Linked DNA regions of Homo sapiens: all the other regions are reported to be linked to region 2. Evidence: microRNA targets listed by miRTarBase, many of them from high-throughput screens and not tested one by one. Region 2 holds a microRNA gene; each other region holds the end of a gene's coding sequence.
The links. Region 2 holds the annotated microRNA hsa-miR-5572 (GUUGGGGUGCAGGGGUCUGCU, at 2,086-2,106, opposite strand). A microRNA usually pairs through its seed, bases 2 to 8, with sites in the 3' UTR of a target mRNA and lowers its output. Matches are read on the target gene's strand: a 7mer-m8 pairs with bases 2 to 8, a 7mer-A1 pairs with bases 2 to 7 and ends in A, and an 8mer does both.

Region 1 (3,251 bases), not on the chromosome of region 2:
AAAGACAACATGATACCTTAGGAAGCAACACTACCCTTTCAGGCATAAAATTTGGAGAAATGCAACATTATGCTTCATGAATAATATGTAGAAAGAAGGTCTGATGAAAATGACATCCTTAATGTAAGATAACTTTATAAGAAATCTGGGTCAAATAAAATTCTTTGAAGAAAACATCCAAATGTCATTGACTTATCAAATACTATCTTGGCATATAACCTATGAAGGCAAAACTAAACAAACAAACAAAAAGCTCACACCAAACAAAACCATCAACTTATTTTGTATTCTATAACATACAAGACTGTAAAGATGTGACAGTGTACATTATATGACAATGCACATTAGCCAGCAAGTCTTTTATAGGTGGTTTCAGCAGCAACGATAAATAATGCAGAATTCAGCTCCAGCACTTTATTTCAAAAGAAATTTCCTGCCTCCCTCCAAGATGCAGGGTGAGGAGGTAGCTTGGGGTTGCTATTGGAGAAGTATTCAGTTTGCTACTTTGTGTCACCCCTTGCCATTCTTTTATCCCCAGTTAATTATTATCTGCATATAATATAAATCTGCTAGACCATAAATTAACAGCTTTCAGGACAGATGCCTTGAAAGTTCTTAGGGAGGTTAAACAAATATTGTAGCCTAAAACCTCCTCTATAACAAACATGCACACAATGGAAGTGATGTCGTAAGTGAGTGATGGGGCAGGAAGGACCTAGGGCTCTGTCTCGACTATAAAATCACCTTGCCCCAAACAAATTTAAATTATAACTTAGGAGGTTCATGGACTTTCATCCATTCTGGAAACAAAGAGAAAAACCAAATCAAATACCAGAATCTGTTTTCTCACTGGGCAAATAGCAACAGGATCCACAGTTTTACCACAATTGTTTCCCTGTCTCCATGTGGTATCTACATAATTCTTTTCCCAAAGGAGGAAATCAAATAACAGGCCAATCTGAGTAATTAAACTCCCCTCCCAACACTACCCAACCTCTGTGAATAAAAGCTTTCCAAACTTTGTGATCACATTTGAAATTGGTTCACTTATTATTGAGAGAAAACCACAAAAAGTCTCAATTTCATCACATCCTCAAACCAATCTTTTAATTTTTAAATGCAGAAGAAGAAACAAAACGAAACAAAAAGATCATTCTGCAAAGAGACCTCTCAACTCTTCATCAGCCAGTGGCATAACTCAGAAACTGATTTAACTAATTTATTATTTGAGAAAAGGGGATTGAAAAACAATTGGGGGGTATAATCTTCTGATTCACAATTCCCAGCCACATTCTTTTCTATTTATTCTCTCTCTCTCTTTTTTTTTTTTTTTTTTTTTTTTTAAGAGCCGGAGTCTTGCTCTGTCACCAGGCTGGAGTGCAGTGGTGTGATCTCAGCTCACTGCAACTTCCGTCTCCTGGGTTCAAGAATTTTCCTGCCTCAGCCTCCCAAGTACATGGGACTACAGGCACGCCCCACCATGCCCAGCTCATTTTTGTATTTTTAGTAGAGACAGGGTTTCACCATGTTGGCCAGGATGATCTTGATCTCTTGACCTCATGATCCGCCCGTCTTGGCCTCCCAAAGTGCTGGGATCACAGGCGTGAGCCACCACACCTGGCCCTCTATTTATTCTCTTTAAAGAGAGAGAAAACTATGAGAGGCCAAAATTATTTAATTAAATCTTTACCTTAGCACAAGGGAAAAAAATGGAATTTGCCTAATATAGGTGATGAAGCATACACAATGAATAGAAACAATCACATTTTAGTAAAAGGCAAAAATTTGAGACTTATAAGCTATATGGTAGCTTATTTTTGGGTGGGGAAGAAATGAGAAAAGAATATAACATCTCTTACTGGCATGACACATTTTGATAAAAAATCTTATTGTCCTTTCCTACTAGAATGATCCACTGTAAGGCAAAAATAATATACAAGCAAAGTTTTTTTTTGGAGACAGAGTCTCACTCTGTCACCCAGGCTGGAGTGCAGTGGTACGATCTTGGCTCACTGCAACCTCTCCCTCCCGGGTTCAAGTGATTCTCGTGCCTCAGCCTCTTGAGTAGCTGGGATTACAGGCGCGTGCCACTGCGTCCGGCTAATTTTTGTATTTTTAGTAGAGATGGGGTTTCACCATGTTGGCCAGGCTGATCTCAAACTCCTGACCTCATGTGGTCCACCCACCTTGGCCTCCCAAAGTGCTGGGATTACAGGCGTGAGCCACCGCGCTCAGCCTACAAGCAATTTTTTAAAAACTGACACCTATTACTGATAAAATTCTCTGTTTAAAATCCTATTTACTATTTTAAAGATAAGTATTAGTTTTTTTTTAAATACAATAATTCTGTTATTGATAAAATTTAAGGCATTTTCATTGCCTTTTGCAGATTTACTCATAACTACCTAACAAGGAAAGAAGGTATAATTATTTCAGATTGGATTATTTATTCTAAAATTAAATTCTTCACTAATTTATTCTAAGATGAATTTAATAGTCCATCAGGAAATTGGTTTTTATAAAGCTTATTTTATGGGCATAAAATACAGGAAAAAGTAATAATAAATGCCAAACCGTCTCTTTACTTTATGAAGCCAAATATTTCCTCAGACTTGGTTTTTAAAGCTGGAATTTATTCCTTCAGGGCCACTATTATTTTTCAAAACTCCATATAAATATTGAATCTAAAAATTAATTAGTAATTTTAATTTTCCTTTTTCTCTTCAAATTCCTTCTCTTCTCCTGAACTGTTGACTTTCAAAAATTCACAGAATGAGCATGTTTCTTACACAGGGGCTTGTCCTTCTTGGAGAAAAAGGTCTGACCTTCCAAACTTTCACAACACACCTGAAAAAGAAGCAGCATTTAAGAGATATTATTTAAGAGGATATTAAGAGGATTTTACCCAGTATGCTGGAGAAGGAGAGAGTGATTTTTCCCCCCAATGGATAATATGACAAAACACTTTAGTTGGTTAAGTTAGACTCCCTAATATTTGACGATTACTATAACATTAGATATAATCTTTCAAAAGCAATGAAAAATTGCTTTTTCCTAGAATGTATTCTAATTTATAGAAAGCACTGATCATCACTTTTCTTTATCCAGAGGGAAGATTTATCCCTAACTTGAAAATCAATATAGAAAGGGGGCTCGTTAAATATATTTTATCTCCCCAAATTATAAACAACGTCCTAATTTTGCTTTGTGTTGTAGAGACTCATTTGCTTTACCAAACCTTCCCAAGCCCA
Region 2 (3,251 bases):
AAGACCTTGCCACGGTTGCGTGTTAGCTCTGCTCCGAAGCCTCTCTTGACCCCATCAGACATAACGACTGTCCTGGCCTGCAGCCACAAGGGCCCCCACGCAGACCATGGCTGCCGCACCTGCAGACTGTCCTGCCTGCCTCCCTTTACCTCTGTCTGTCTCCCCTGACCCAGTCTCTGGACTGTGTCCTTCTCTGGGTGGGGACCAGGTCTCCTGTCTTCCAGGGCTGATTCGGGGCCTGGCACTGAAGGTTTTTTTGAGTAGATCGGTGCCAGATGGTCCCTGGGCTTCCGGGAAGGACTAGGTACCCAGGAGGCCTTGAGTCTATGAGGCCCACCTTCAGGAGGAGGTGAAGGGGTCTCTCCACACCCGGGTGGGGAACCAGATGTGGAGAAGGATCTCACGTGTGACTGCAGGAAGGTGGATGCTATCCTGAGAAACAGGATTCTGGGCTCAAGGTGGTAACCGTGCTGAGTGCCTGGCTGACTTGAGAGCAACTGCTATGGGGTTTCTCCTTCCTCAGACAGGGTGCTGTGCTTCTAAACTGGGTTCCAGTGAACCACGTGGCGAGAATACTTAACAGACGAAGAGGAGACACACTGCAAGTAAATGGGACTAAGGCTGGAGGGACAAGCATGGCCTCAGGAAATGCTGTGCCCCAAGACCTCGGGCTGAGTGGGACGGACGTGCTGCTGTTAGTGGAGGAGGTGGGGAGGGCTGGGCAGCAGATGACAACTCCCCATTGTGTGCTAGGGGCTCTGCACAGCATTTTTCTTTCTTTTGTTTTTTCAGACAGGGTCTCACTGTGTCACCCAGGCTGGAGTGCAGTGGTGTGATCATGGCTCACTGCAGCCTCAACCTCCTGGGATCAAATGATCCTCCCACCTTAGCCTCCTGAGTAGCTGGAATTACAGGCATGCACCACAACACCTGGCTAATTTTTTTTTTTTTTTTTTGTAGAGACAGGGTTTTGCAATGTTGCCCAGGCTAGTCTTGAACTCCTGGGCTCCGGTGATCTGCCACCTTGACCTTTCAAAGTGCTGGGATTACAGATGTGAGTCACCGCGCCCTGCCTGCACAGAATTGTTCATAAGGCTGACAGACAAGCAGTTCTAATGGAAGCTTTTAACTTGCCACGTGGAAATTCAGATGTTTGGGCTCAGATTCACGCTCATCTGAGGAATCAATTCTGTAGAGAAAAGCTCTATGAGCCGCACTGCTGGGTGTCACCCAGTGACCTCACTGTGAGAAAGCAGGCACCAGCTTGGACTTCTTACCAGGACCACGGGTCTCTTATGAGCTTGTCCTGACGTGGAGTGGAACCCTAGCCCTGGGAGACATGCTGAGGAGGTTCCTTACACACACGGAGAGTGGGCAAGGCCCAGGATCCTGAGAAATGCACAGGACACAGCGGTTCCTTAACCCTCTATGGCCTGAGGTTTTGTTAACAAAGTAAGATAGGTGTTTTTAATATTTAAAAGAGACAGAAAACTTTGCAGTGTTATTTATGCAATTGATTGTCTCTATAGCTATTCTCTAGTTTCTTGAAACAAGACTATAAGGTTTTTGACTTGGGGGACCTGAAAATCCTTGCCAGGGCCATAATGGGTTAAAATGGTATTCAGATCACCTCACAGCACAGCAACATCATCCCAATGCCTTGAAAATGATAAAGTCAAATCACAAAGCCAAGGCCTAAGCATCCAGTCTCTTAGGAACACCATAGGCCTCCTCATAGCCAGAGAGAGAGGAGGTGCTTGGAAACCTCCAGACCTTGTTTTGGTAGCTGGGAGCTTGGAGCTCAGCCTCCTGAATTCAGGCTGTTCAGAAAGCATTTGTGCTGGCTTTCCCAGAATCTCACTCCCTCATTCCCCACCTACCGAACCCTGGAGTCCTGTTGGCAAGACTGGAGTAGGCATTCCCACTTGGCGAGGAGGTAGCTGGGCTGGAGAGGGGGCTGTAGGAAGAGGGGTCTGCCGGGTAGGTGTGGCTCGTTCCAATCCCAAAGGGAGATGACTGAGTCTTGCTGGACTGAGATGGGATTTGCTACAATCAGGACAAAGCAAAGAGATGGAAAGCATCACCAGCAGACCCCTGCACCCCAACCGATGCCCCAGGCTGGTCGCAGGGGCAGTGCCTGCTCTGGGTTGACAGTGACTCCCCATGACCCTCTTGTCTGGCTAGGCACAGGCCTGGGATCAGCCCGGTGTGTGAGGGCCCAGGAACTGCAGGATCTTTGGGGCACGTCTGGTTGAAGTTACTCCCCAGGGCTACGAGGATCCGGGCCCTCTGGAGTCTGGTTACCAAGGCCTTGGCATTATGAACACCTAGAACTCCCTCAGCCCAATCAACACCCACCCTCACAGTGACTATGAGGGTCTGGGGATGTCACAAGGGTTGGTGGTTTCATGCCCTCCTGGCGCAGGGGCAGCCAGAGGTCCAGAGTAGTGAGGGGCTCATTCTTGATGAGGTGTCTCAACCTGCCCAACCTTTCCCTGCCAGCTGCCTCAGGGCATGGCTGTAAGGAGAAAAGGCTGCTGAAGTTGCAGGCTGGGCACCTGGCTCTCCGAGAGCCCTGAGGGTGGATGGTGCTCCTGAGTAGCCAGCTGCTGTTAGGGTGGTTGGTTCCAGCTAGGAGCCGACCCATCCTCAGAACCGCAATCCAAAGAAAACACTTCCCAGAGTGCTCTGCCTCTCTGGTCACCCAGGGGAGATGCCCTCACAGATGCCCATACCTGTCCCGGAAAGGGCGGACGACTCCCTGTCCATGCCACCTGACTCTGGTTTAGCTGCCGGGAGATTTGGGACATGTTCTGGCCCGTGGAAGAAGAGGACTGAATATCATTCACTCCAGGCACATGAACCACTGAAGAGCTAGAAAAGAGGAAAATGCATTTATCCCGAGGACACACCTGGTTTGCATGAGTCTACGTGCCCAGCCAACCACACAATCTGCCCTGGGCCATCTTCCTGGCTCTCTCTCCATGCAGCACGTCACTAGAGAAAATGACTCACACATCGTGAGCCTCAAAGCCCCTTGGCCGTCCTCCTCTCCCTTCAGGGCTTCCTCTACACTGCTGAGTAGTCCTGCCATGTCTAGTAGTCTGGTACTTCCTCTCCTCGTTCTCCCCAGGGTCTCCCACGCACTCTTCAGCCCCTATCCTATGCCTGTACATCCTCTGCTCTCAGCAGATGATTTGGTTCCCAGAAAGAGAGAAGCTTCTTAGAATAAAAATCAGTCCCACTGTTCA
Region 3 (3,251 bases), not on the chromosome of region 2:
TATGAGTCACTGCGCCTGGCCTGTTCTGTCCTTAGCTTCCCCAAGGAATGGGGCTGGTCCAGGTTTTGATGTGGGTCCCGTAAAGGAGGGCACGAGGGCCACCTATGCTCTGGCAGGCATCCTCCCTGGGGCCCAGGTGGGCGGCCACTTGGGCCAAGACTGCGCCAGGTGACACCAGAGTGTTTCCCAGAGCCCATGCCGGGCCCTTCCCTTGCCCGAGGCCGGCTGGCTGCCCTCCATGGGTTACCCTCTTTGCAAAGCCCCGAATGTCCTCTGCAGGCCACCCACACTAACCAGGTCAGTCACTGGGCAGCCAGACCCCCACCTATAGCTTCCCTAGGCCCCAGTGCAGAGATGCCGTCCACCCCCATCTAGGTGAGGGCTTGGGGCCACTCTTAGCATTAGTATCATTTTCTTCTAGTATCATTTTGTGGTAGGCATGGCTGGAAATGTGCAGCTTTGCTTTTTTTTTTTTTTTTTTTGGAGGAGTTTCGCTTTTGTTGCCCAGGCTGGAGTGCAATGGCTCGATTTCAGCTCACTGCAACCTCTGCCTGCCGGGTTCAAGCGATTCTCCTGCCTCAGCCTCCCGAGTAGCTGGGATTACAGGCATGTGCCACCATGCCCGGCTAATTTTGTGCTTTTAGTAGAGACGAGGTTTCTCCATGTTGGTCAGGCTGGTCTTGAACTCCCGACCTCAGGTGATCCACCTGCCTCAGCCTCCCAAAGTGCTGGGATTACAGGCATGAGCCACCATGCCTGGCACTGGTTTTTTGAGATGGAATCTCGTTATGTCACCCCAGCTGGAGGGCAGTGGCACGATCTCAGCTCACTGTAACCTTTGCCGTGGGTTCAAGCGATTCTCCTGCCTCAGCCTCCCAAGTAGCTGGGATTACAGGCACGCTCCACCACACCCGGCTAATTTTTTTGTATTTTTAGTAGAGATGGGGTTTCACCATATTGGCCAGGCTGGTCTTGAACTCCTGACCTCAAGTGATCCGCCTCCCTTGGCCTCCCAAAGTGCTGGGATTACAGGCGTGAGCCACCGTGCCCATCCAACTTAACTTTTAATTTTTTCTCATGTAAATTTGTTCAATTTCTTTTTTTTTTTTTTTTTTTTTTTTTGAGACAATCTCTGTCACCCCCAGGCCAGAGTGCAGTGGTGCGATCTCAACTCACTGCAACCTCCACCCGCCGGGTCCCTGTGATTTTCCCACCTCAGCCTCCCGAGTAGCTGGGATTACAGGTGTGGGCCACCACACCCGGCTAATTTTTGTATTTTTAGTAGAGACGGGGTTTCACCACATTGCTCAGGCTGGTCTGAAACTCCTGGCCTGAAGTGATCCTCCCGCCTCGGCCTCCTAAAGTGCTGGGATTACAGGCACGCTCTACCACACCTGGCTAATTTTTTTTTGTATTTTTAGTAGAGATGGGGTTTCACCATATTGGCCAGGCTGGTCTCGAACTCCTGACTTCAAGTGATCCGCCTGCCTTGGCCTCCCAAAGTGCTGGCATTACAGGCGTGAGCCACTGTGCCCAGCCGATGAGCTCATTTAGATGGCTGCATGGGGTCACCGCCCCTGCACGCGTGGCACCCAACTTCTTCCAGTCGAATCCTGCTTCTTGGTGCCCTGATATGGCAGAATGCCCCCAGACACCACCCCTACTCCAGCCCCTGAAATAAACCACTCCAGACAATTTTATTTTTCCAATTAAATCTTTTCTTTTTTTTTATGAAAAAAGATCACACAGAATTTGCCAACAAACAAAATTCCAAAAGAAACATAAAAAAAAAAACCAATAATTCCCCCAAAAAACAAACCCAAAGTCTGGCTTTTCCTTCCCTCAAGATTGTCTGGTTGAGGCCTTGGTTTCCCTTGAAGGCTTGGGGCCTGGTTAAGTGCTTTCTGGGGCCCAAGCAGGGACCCTGGGCTTGGGCCGGCTCCTGCCTCTCCCTCTTCTCTCCCTAACAAACACTTCTCTATCCTGGGGGGTGAGTACAGTACACTTGGTGGGGTGGGCGGGGGGTGTGCTGGGGACTGGGAGGCCGGTGAAGCCGGTGCTAGACACTATAATCTAACAGGAAATAAAAAATAATATTCTGCACGTCAGAATGTTTTTTTTTATAATTTCATAGCTATTTTTCACAGTTTTAAAAAGTTTATATATATATTTATATATATTTATCTTTATATATATAATTAAAAAGTTGACTCCATTTAAAGGCTTATGATACAGGGGCGGGGCGAGTCTCTTGGTACAATAAAACTGTACAGGTTAAGAAGTGCCACCTCCCTCCTGGGTGGGGAGGGGCCAGGCGTGGCCGGGCGACAGTTTCAGCACCATTGGGGTTTTCTGTAGTGTGAGGGTTTGGACCAGGGTGGGCCTGTGCCGGGCCCTCTCCACCTGGTGCCTTTGACAGACACTCCGGGCTGCAACCCCACCCGGCTCTGTTCCCCAAGTCTAGGCCATCCTGAGAGGGTGGGGGCAGGGCCCCTGGCACAGTCAGGTAGGCCAGCTGGCATCGGGCTGCCCTGTCCCATGCACGGTGGGAGGCCTTGGGGTGGGCTCCATGCTAAGGGTGCTTGGGAAGCCCAGAGTGAGCGTCAGTTTGGTTCCTTAGAAGCGCCCCTCCCCACCGAATCCCCAGTCTGCATGGACCTGGGGGCACCCGGGCCCCCACGCAGCAGCAGCCTGGAGGGCCGGCCTGGCCAAGTGCTTGCAACGTGCTGGGCAGGAAGGGCCGGTCCGGCCATACCCTGATAGCTAAGAGGGGCCCCTGTCCTGGGGGCACTGAGGGGTTGGAAGGTGGGGCTGGAGGCATGTGCACATGCGTGCACACACGTGCATGCACACACACTCACCCGGGCATCCACGTGCACACCTGGCCCCATGCACACGCCTGCAGGAGCGCTCGCATGCACACAACGCACGTGGTCTCCGCGCCATGGCAGTGATGGAGATGGGTCCCTGGCCGCCCTCGGGGCACAGGTGGCCCGCAGGGCCCGGCGGGCTCAGCAGAGCACGGGCACGCCGTCCGTGGAGAAGATCATGCCCGTGGTGGGCTCGTAGGTGCCCGCGAGGTAGTACAGGCCCTCGCTGTCCTGGTACTTCTTGGTCTTCAGCATCTGCTCATACTGCTCCAGGCCCACCACCAGGCACTTGTGCGACACCGTCTGCACGTCATTTTCGTCCACATGCGAGGACTGGTATAGCGCGCGCTGCGGGCACGCGGGGATATCAGGATGGCAGGT

Region 1: the mRNA of PDLIM5 is a reported target of hsa-miR-5572. Seed matches in the 3' UTR shown: 7mer-m8 at 469-475.
Region 3: miRTarBase lists TNRC18 as a target of hsa-miR-5572. Seed matches in the 3' UTR shown: 7mer-m8 at 2,556-2,562 and 7mer-m8 at 2,343-2,349.

The regions. Positions count from the first base shown.
Region 1 is chr4:94,663,574-94,666,824 of GRCh38, reverse strand. It overlaps PDLIM5 (PDZ and LIM domain 5), which reads right to left. Exons shown (of 13, transcript NM_006457.5): 13 at 1-2,847. The coding sequence ends at 2,758. Among named protein-coding and RNA genes, the nearest start is that of BMPR1B-DT, 92 kb to the left of the region's middle.
Region 2 is chr15:80,580,034-80,583,284 of GRCh38, reverse strand. MIR5572 (microRNA 5572) reads right to left here and starts at 2,182; the gene lies at 2,046-2,182. It overlaps ARNT2 (aryl hydrocarbon receptor nuclear translocator 2), which reads right to left. Exons shown (of 19, transcript NM_014862.4): 16 at 2,736-2,874; 17 at 1,881-2,046. ARNT2-AS1 (ARNT2 antisense RNA 1) reads left to right here. Exons shown (of 2, transcript XR_007064732.1): 2 at 524-3,251.
Region 3 is chr7:5,305,095-5,308,345 of GRCh38, forward strand. It overlaps TNRC18 (trinucleotide repeat containing 18), which reads right to left. Exons shown (of 30, transcript NM_001080495.3): 30 at 1,717-3,218. The coding sequence ends at 3,012. It overlaps SLC29A4 (solute carrier family 29 member 4), which reads left to right. Exons shown (of 11, transcript NM_153247.4): 11 at 1-1,818. Among named protein-coding and RNA genes, the nearest start is that of SLC29A4, 24 kb to the left of the region's middle.